Linked DNA regions of Homo sapiens: region 1 is linked to region 2. The links come from fine-mapping of genetic effects on gene expression. A gene starts in region 2. The other region holds a variant in brackets. All regions are shown on one strand. Distances are from middle to middle.

The links. PIP is the estimated chance that this variant, and not a neighbour inherited with it, causes the effect. A credible set is the group of variants that fine-mapping cannot tell apart.
Region 1: its variant is the best candidate, but not a certain one, in a credible set for the expression of DKK2 in lung (TOPMed, PIP 0.54).

The regions. Positions count from the first base shown.
Region 1 is chr4:107,453,491-107,457,891 of GRCh38, forward strand. No RefSeq gene overlaps it. Among named protein-coding and RNA genes, the nearest start is that of PAPSS1, 260 kb to the right of the region's middle. The variant C/T (reference allele first, on the strand shown) is at 2,580.
Region 2 is chr4:107,034,578-107,038,978 of GRCh38, forward strand. DKK2 (dickkopf Wnt signaling pathway inhibitor 2) reads right to left here and starts at 1,736. Exons shown (of 4, transcript NM_014421.3): 1 at 793-1,736. The coding sequence starts at 1,014.

The DNA.
Region 1 (4,401 bases), 420 kb after region 2:
AGGCTTACAATGAGGTCAGAAGAAAAATACAATACTTTGTACATTCCGCTAATACTGTGAACTGAATTATTGTAACATGCAGCTGTTCTCAATTTTGAAAAGCCAATGCTATGCTCTGGATTACAGAACTTTATTTTTTTTATTTAAAAATGAATTAAAATAGGAAGCACAATCAAAGAGCAGAGTACAGCTTAGCTCAGGATCCAAAAATACAAATAAGAAAAATTTTACCTAGAGACAAAAATTATATAAGTTTTAGTAAAATACCTGTTTGGACAGTTTTAAATGTGGTGGAGTAAGGAATGTGTCATTTATTTATACATAGCCAAGTTTAGGGCCACAAGAGACAATCATGGACCCAAGAAATGGGGACATTTGTGGCAAATATGACCAAAAAAAAAACTCTAGCCCTGATAGATCATATAGTCTATGAGGGAAGCTAGACATTAATAAATAATTACAACATAAATATTTAAACACATATGAGATAACTTATAGAAAAGCACAGGGAACTGTGAGAACTTCTCATGGGAGAACCTGAGCTGTTTGGGGTTGGGGGTGGGTGACAGAGCAGGCCCCCTTGATGAAGTCCTACGGGAAGGGAGCAGGAAGCCAGATAAAAGAACTGGCAGAGCCAGGGAGCACATTCTCCAGTGACTTTGTGATATGCTGGCAAAGGGACAGTGTAAACTGCATATTTCCAGATATGGGATCTACTTGGGATGTGTGGTGAAACTAATTATTCAAACTTCATGACCAAAAAAACACACAAACATCTGGTCTCTTAATTTTATTAGCACATATTATCACCGATTATGTCTTTTAATTTAAAAATATAATCAGTTCAATCTTTATCTCTCATGTCACAAGGATTACTTTATCTTAAGAGATTTTAGTTAAATTGTTCAATAGTCCTTTCTCCCTGTAGTGGGCACAACCCATTTCCTCATTTACATTGTTCTTGCCATCTCTCCATTATATGGAGTCTCCAGCCCCTTAGACGACTTAGCCCCTTTTCCCTGAGGTGACTATAATACCTCATGCAAACCTACATATTTTTTCTACTGTTGAATACTCACATGTGAGCTTTTTCTTGCCCATCCACAGTAAGGAGCATAAAACCCAAAAGAAAGAACAAACAGGCTTCGTATAACTAGGTCACACCTATCACATTTTACGTTCCAAGACAATTAGTTGGGTTGGAATTTCCCAATGAAAATATACATTTTATTAAACTGGAAACAGAACCTTGATAATGATTCTTGGATCCCAGCATGAGCAAAGTATTATATGTTCCTGTCAGGGAAAGAAATAAAAGTGAGTGCAAAAAAATCTAGTGATTTTTTGAAGTAAAAGTGATTGCAAAACATTTTTTATTGGCTTAGAGTAGAAATCAAATATTGATGCCTTATTTGGAATTGCTTCAACCTAGAACATTCAATATTTATTTGTTTATTCATCTTAAAAAGCATGTGAGAAACTAGAAAATGCAGATAACTTATTAAATGCCTCTACTTATTTACCTAACTGGAGTATTGGCAGCAAAATTTATTTCTTTCTAGTACTATGGGAGATTTATCCGTGATTCAATGGTATTTTGTTGTTATATTTAAACTGGAATAAAGTAGATATATAGAAAATTATATAATGATTTTAAATGACAAAAGGAGGCATTGTTATATTAAATTATTTTCACAGATGTTAGTTCACTGAGGATTATCAAATAATTGAAAAAGATTATGATGTGGACTGATCATTTGAGTCTAGGAATTCTAGAACAGCCTGTGCGACATGGCAAAACACCATCTCTACAAAAAAAATACAAATATTAGCTGGGCGGGGTCGTGCATGCCTGTAGTCCTAGCTACTCAGGAGGCTGGGGCAGGAAAATCACTTCAGCCCAGGAGGTGAAGGTTGCAGTGAGCCGAGATCACGCCACTGCACTCCAACCTGGGCAACAGAATGAGACACCTCTCTCTCTCTCTCTCTCTCTCTCTCTCTCTCTCTCTCTCTCTCTCTCTTTCACACACACACACACACACACACACACAATGAAAAAAAGTCATTTTCCTATAGAATGCTCTCCAGTTACTGATAAAGAATACTCCCCTTTCTCAATGTTTCCTAGAAATCTCATTTGAGTTTAACAAAGTTCAATTTAAGAAGTTTGATCACATTTAATGTTTTTATTTCCTTTGCCACGGTTTTTCCCCCTTCAAACTAACTTCTAACATAAATCAACATTAAAAATTTTTTTTCAGAAAAGACACTTTATGTAAGGTAGTAGAGTTCACCAAAGTACCCAGATATCATGAACCAAGAGAAGCTCTGGGAATGATAATCCTTTGACAAACCAATGCAGCCACCTGAAGCCAATTATAATTTAGGTTTAACAAAAAAATGGGAAGACTTTAGCTTTTACCTAAATCTCGAAAGGCCTCAAACATCCCTGAAGACCGATCATGTTTCAGATGGGGTCTTTTATAGTTACGTATTTCACATATGTTGTTTTTTCCTGGAGCTAGAATAAGATATGTGAAAGTATCATAGGAAACACTTTTATTTGTAGTATTTCTAAT[C/T]CGTGGAAGGAGAAAGTAAACACACATCAAAGTAAAATCAATTCTTATGAGATATCCACCACAGTTCTTCATCCACCAGAAAAAAAAAAAACAGAGAAATATTCAAACTGGAGCCTCCAAACATTTTGCCATTCATCTATCACTAGGGTACTGTGTCTTCTGTCTCTTTTGTACACTTTTGATTCCTTAGTGGGCAGATGGATATAATACAACGGTTAGCCTCAATAATTATTCCAAATTTTAAAAATTGATTGAAAAAAAAAACACTGGATGCAAGCCAATTTTATAAACTCAAGTTAAAAGATTTGGGTGCTCAGAGAGAATGTATTTTAGAATGCAGAACAAAAAAGAAGATGGCTTTTTATCTGTTATTGGAAATAATCACTGCTTGCCCTGACAATAGTTCACAGATGAACTTATGTTTTTCTGTAATCAAGTTTAGGATGAGACCTAGTCATCTGAAGTTGAAAAAATGTGAAATTTAAACTTTATTAGTTTCAGGACTTTGCTGTAATGTAGAATAAACTAATGATTCAGTCTGTACTTAAGGACTATTCAGTCTGTATTAAGGACTATGAAGGACTGTCCTACACTATTGACAGTATCAACTTCCAATAACCAACAATGTCTTACATACAGCTCATTATCCAGTGAAGTCAAAGCCATTATTATATTGACTGTGGATCTTATATCCTGTAACTGTTCATGGTAGCAATGGTTGTACTGGAACAACAATAATAAATTTATCTATTCACTCAACATGCATTGACTGAGTGCTTACTCTATACTCCATTCTCCACAAATTGGCCAAAATTATATTTTTAAAATGTAAATCAGATCATATTATTCCCTACTGAAAATACACTAAATTAGTGGTTCTCAATCTCTGGCAATTTGCCTCCCCAGGGACATTAGACAATGTCTACAGACACATTTAACTGTAACAACTCAGGAATGAATGCTACTGGTTTCTAGTGGACAGAGGCCAGAAATGCTGGTAAACATCCTACAATGCACAGGACAGCCCCACAACAACAAATCTGGTCTAAATCTTTATAGCGCTGCTGTGAAGAAACCCTGCACTAAATCCAAATCCCTTAACCTAATTTGCAAGGTCATGTAGTCTGACTTCTGCCTCTCTCTTTAATCTTGCCTCTGGCCACATTCTCTCCTGCTCATTATGCTCTAGCCATGCTGGTTATACTTTGTATTCCTTGAACCACCCAAGCCAGTGTGTCTCAGGACCCTTTAACCTGCTAATCTCTGATTCCTTTTCCTGTAATGTCCTTCTACCTGGAATGGTCTTCTACCAAAACTTTGCATGGCTGCCTCCTTCTCAATATTTAGATCTCTGTTCAAATGTCACTTGCTCAGAGAGAGTTTCTGTAACCATTTCATCTAAGGCAGGGGTCTCTCAGACTGTGAACCGATGCCAATCTGTGACCTGTCAGGAACCTAGACACACAGCAGTCAGTGAGCAGGTGAACCAGCATTACCACTTGAGCTCTGTCTCCTGTAAGATCAGCGGGACAGCATTAGATTCTCATAGGAAGGTGAACACTATTGTGAACTGCACATGTGAGTAATCTAGATTGCACATTCCTTATGAGAATCTAATGTTCCCCCCACCCCCTGGTCCATGGAAAAACTGTCTTCCATGAAACTGATCCCTGGTGCCAAAAAGGTTGAGAACCGCTGATCTAAAGTATGTACATCCATTCCACCCCTGTGAATCTCCATCTCATCATGGTTTCATTTCCATCTATGTACCTGACACTCTGAATTTACCTTGTTTATAAACTTCCTGTGGTTCTCTTAGAAT
Region 2 (4,401 bases):
AAAAACGCCTTCAGTGTCCTGCTGTATCGCTGGCGCCTACGACGCTGTCATTGTCATCTCATCATTTTGCTTCCTTCCGGGTGATTTATGTACAATTCTGCGTGAGTGAGAAATGCGCGTCTACTGGAGTTGTTTTGTCTGTGACCTTACTTCTTTGAAGAGAGTAAGTGGTTGGAAGGGAAGGAGACCCTGAAAAGGAGTAATGTCCCCTCCAGATTGTAAAATATAATGGTTAAACGCCCAGTATCTCAATGTCTAGACTGAAATCCCTCTCTGCCACTTATACTAGCTGTGTGCCTTGGGCAAATCGTTAATCAATCCGTGCCTCAATTACTTCATTAGCAGAATGGGAAAGCAACAGCATCTAGCTCACAGAGTTGTGAAGATTAAATGAGTGAATATGTAAAACGCTTAGAACTGTGCCTGGCACGTTATTAGGTGCTATAGGTTAAATGCTATTAACATCTTCATCAGTTGCATCACAGTGTTAAATGGAAGGACCATCCTGACCACTTTCTCCACAGGAAAGCACTAGATCTTGATATGTGCCCACGCCCCAGAGCAAAGGCGAGACAGAATCCTAACCCTTTGACTCCGTGCAGTGCAGGACCAGCAGCCACCCAGACACCCCCCGCCCACGCAGACCCTGTTCGGTGAATCCCTCCCCAGCCGCCTGTTCTCTGTATCTGGGGCCACGCTCCGAATGTTGCAAGATGCAATGGCAAACCGCTAGCCCAAGAGAGCTGGCCCCTGCCTCTTCTGTCTGAAGAATGTGTTTGGGGGTTTTCCTACCTGCCCCAGGTTTTTGCCCTTCTTACTGCCGCCGAATGCCAGTCCTTGGTACATGCCCGCAGATCGATTGGCGGCCTGACCAGGCGTCTCCCCGCCCAGAGAGGACTTGATGGAGTTGAGTTTGGCCCGCGAACTGCCGATCTGTGAGCTCTCCACCATCAGCACCGCGGCCAGTAGGAGCAGGCAGCAGGACGAATCCTTGCTCCGCATCAACGCGGCCATCTCCCGGCGAGGGGGTCCCCAGGAAGACGCAAAGCCCGGAGGGGTGGGAATGCAAAGGGAGGGAGGACCCCAACACGGGGCCCCTCACTTGGGTCGCGGGGGCTTGCAGATTGTGTTCCCTCAACCCTTCCTGGTTCGGGGACCCAGGACCCTATGAACTCAGTCTCACGCCTCAGGACAGAAATTAGCGGAACCCAAGCGAGACCCGCTTCTCCACCAGGACAGGAAGTTCTGCAATAACTGGAAGCAATCAAATGCGAGGCGCTTTCTCGCCAAGGAGGCGTGACCCAAGGTGCAAGAAAACCCAGCCCTGTGGATCGCACCGCTTCCGTTCCTTCTTGCCCCGCACCTCCTTGGTCCCGCCGGGATCTCGGCGGTTTAACTCTCCTCTTAATTGATCAGGAGGCCCGCATCAGCTCCTTCTCCTTCAACTCAGTTGCTTTTCTCTCCTCTCTTTTCCTATCCTTTATGTGTCAAACTTTGCAGGACACAGTGCTCCTTTTCAAAGTTAGCAGGCGCTTTAGTAGGGGATCAGGAGACGTCCCCGGACCGAATCCTCGAGATCTGAAGAGAATCGAGGTCCCCCACACGCGCACTCACAGTTGCCCCGAAGCGTTGTCCCCTGACTCACAAGAGACAGCGAATCGCTGCCAGCGCAGCGATGCCTAGGGAGCGGACTTGCGCTACGCTCGCCGCGGGCTCCCGCTTTCTCTCTCTCTGCTCTCTCCCCAGTCCTCTTTGCTTTTTATAGCTTCCCACAGTGAGGACTTTTTTTTTTTTTTTACCTCCGCCCCCAATTCAAGAGTGACAAAGAGTGAAAATTTTTCTCTCACTCCCCACCGCTTCCGCCCCCCTCCTCTCTGCGTGCTGCTTCTGCTTCTGCGGCTTTCACTCCAGCTTTTCCTCCTCCTCATCCTCCCGCTCTGTCTCCACCCACAACTACTGGAAAAGGGGGATCTAGCTTTTCCATGAGGTGAATGGAACATAGGGGCTCCTAATTCCTGACAACAACTCCAGCGGTTGGAGGGGTCTTTGGAAACTGGCAGAGACCAAAGGTGGAAACGGAGTGGGGCAAGCTGACACCACTTGATCGCTGCCACCCTTTCTTAGATCTTCCCACCCATCTTCAGCCCCTGACTCCGCGAGGAGAGCTGGAAAAGCCCTATGGAAGCTTTAGAGAAGTGAGCATCTGCGCATCTGCTCATTAGTATTGTGTTCTTTGTGAGCTCACGTTTGGTTTTAGACTGTGCCTCCCAGGGAGTGTGTGAAGCTGGAGCCACATAGGTGCGCCAGGGGGTGGCCAATGATCCGGATAGAGGGTCTGGAAGGAAAGGGGCAGACCAAAGAGGGGAAAAGATGAGCCTGTTCGATTTGGGTCTTTTTAGTCTCCTCCTTCGGAACCCCGGGCCCCGCCGCACTCGTAGAATATGTCTATGTCTCTGAGGGACTGGGAAGAAGGGGATGCTCTGGGTACGCTCCAAGGGTTTGGACCTCACAGCTCGAATGAGCATCTTTACCATGCCAGGCAACTGCTCTTTTTGCGAATAGGAAATCCCAGATAGGAATGAACGGGGGCAGGGAGCCTTTGAGATCCTGTCTTCCTTGGCTTCCTGCCTTCTAGCCCCAGTGAATTACAAGAGAAGCCATTCCTGTCAGCCCCCGGGTCTCTCCAGGTCCAATTCCCTTCGGCCGAAGGTCGAAGGCTGCTCCGGGAACGACTGGGACGCGCTGGCGCTTGGGGGCGCCAGTGGCAGCCGTTCAGCGAGCCACGGAATTGCTGCAGGAGACAAGCGCTGAGTTCGGTGATGTCTGGTGGCCAAGTGCGAGACTTTCCAAGCAAAGCAAGGGATTGTTCGAAAGTTATTGCATTTCTGCTTCGCAGACACTAATGTCCAGGAGCAGAGAAATCCAAGCATTGAGCCACAACTTGAAGTTAGAAGGCAGCTAGCCGCCAGGGGAGGATACAAGCAGCATCCTCTTCAGAATTTTTGGACCTAGATTTCACAGCTTTCACACCTGATCCTGGCGCATGTCCATGAGTACGAATTAAACTTGTCGCTAAGTGAGAACGTTGGTGACTCTTATTTTCCCCCAAAACAACGCAGAGTTCTAAAGTGTGGATTTAGAGCTATTTTCTCCCAGACAGCTCCAGTTTTGCAAATTTCTCAGTCCTGACCTATGAGTCTGTCTGCCCTGAAATTCTTCATTTTCAGATTTTTTTTTTAATACACAAGGAAACGGGGATTAAAATATGCACCCTCTGGCATGTGTTCTTATCTTTTGAATTTCCTTTCTTTAAGGTAGAGATTTTTCACATTTTAGTGTGTGGGGTTTTTTTTCCACTTTTTAAAAATATGCCAGGAATAACAATATGGGTGACCCCTGAAGGACATCATACTAAGTGAACTCGACCAATCACAGAAAGACAAATCCACTTATAGGAGGTACCTAAAATAGTTAAATGCATAGAATCAAAGGTTGGAATGATGGTTACCAGGAATTGGAAGGAGAGGAGAATGGGGAGTTACTATATCAATGATCATAAAGTTTCAGTTAACTAAGATGAATAAACTCTAGAGATTTGTCATATGGTATTGTACCTATAGCCAACAATAATGCATTGTATTTTTAAAAACTTATTGAGAAGGTAGATCTCATGCTATATAGATATAAATTTTATATGTGTGTGACTTTATATACATGTATAATATATATATGTATTTATACATATAACATGATTGTAGTAAGAACATTTAACATCTATATATGCCCAGTAATAAATTTGTAAGTTTATAAAGTTAAGTGAGGCATTCTAGGCACTAATAAAAGGCAAGGAAATGGGTCGTTACTCTATAAATAAGTACTTAACGATTCCAAGCTTAGACTTTACAGAAGAGTATATCTTTTGCCTTCATTCTGATTTGCCAATCAGAAAGCATGACAGAAATTGAGAAACTTAAGTTAGGAGTATACTGGTTTAAATATTTTTGAAAAGTAGCTTAGAGCAAAAGGAAAAGATAGAAGCTAAACATGTAGGCAACAGATCACTCTACATTCACTTGGAAGGGTGTAGACTTTGACCATATGTTGAAGAACAAACCCAAATGAACCATGAGAAAATGTGAAGATGCTTTGCCTATTTCTGTCACTTCCTTCTTTCTTTACCTCTAAATAAAATAATATCCCACATACACAGGCCTAACTTTACTCACATGTACTGCTAAACAGAAAACATATATCAAGCACAACACATTTACTCTCAGCTCTGAGTACCATCCTAAACACATTATCTCAGAGGCTTATTCAAACCCCGCAAGTTCCAAAAGCAATTTTTTACAAATACAGTTAAATTAAAAGTCGACATAAAATCTACTTACACAAACATTC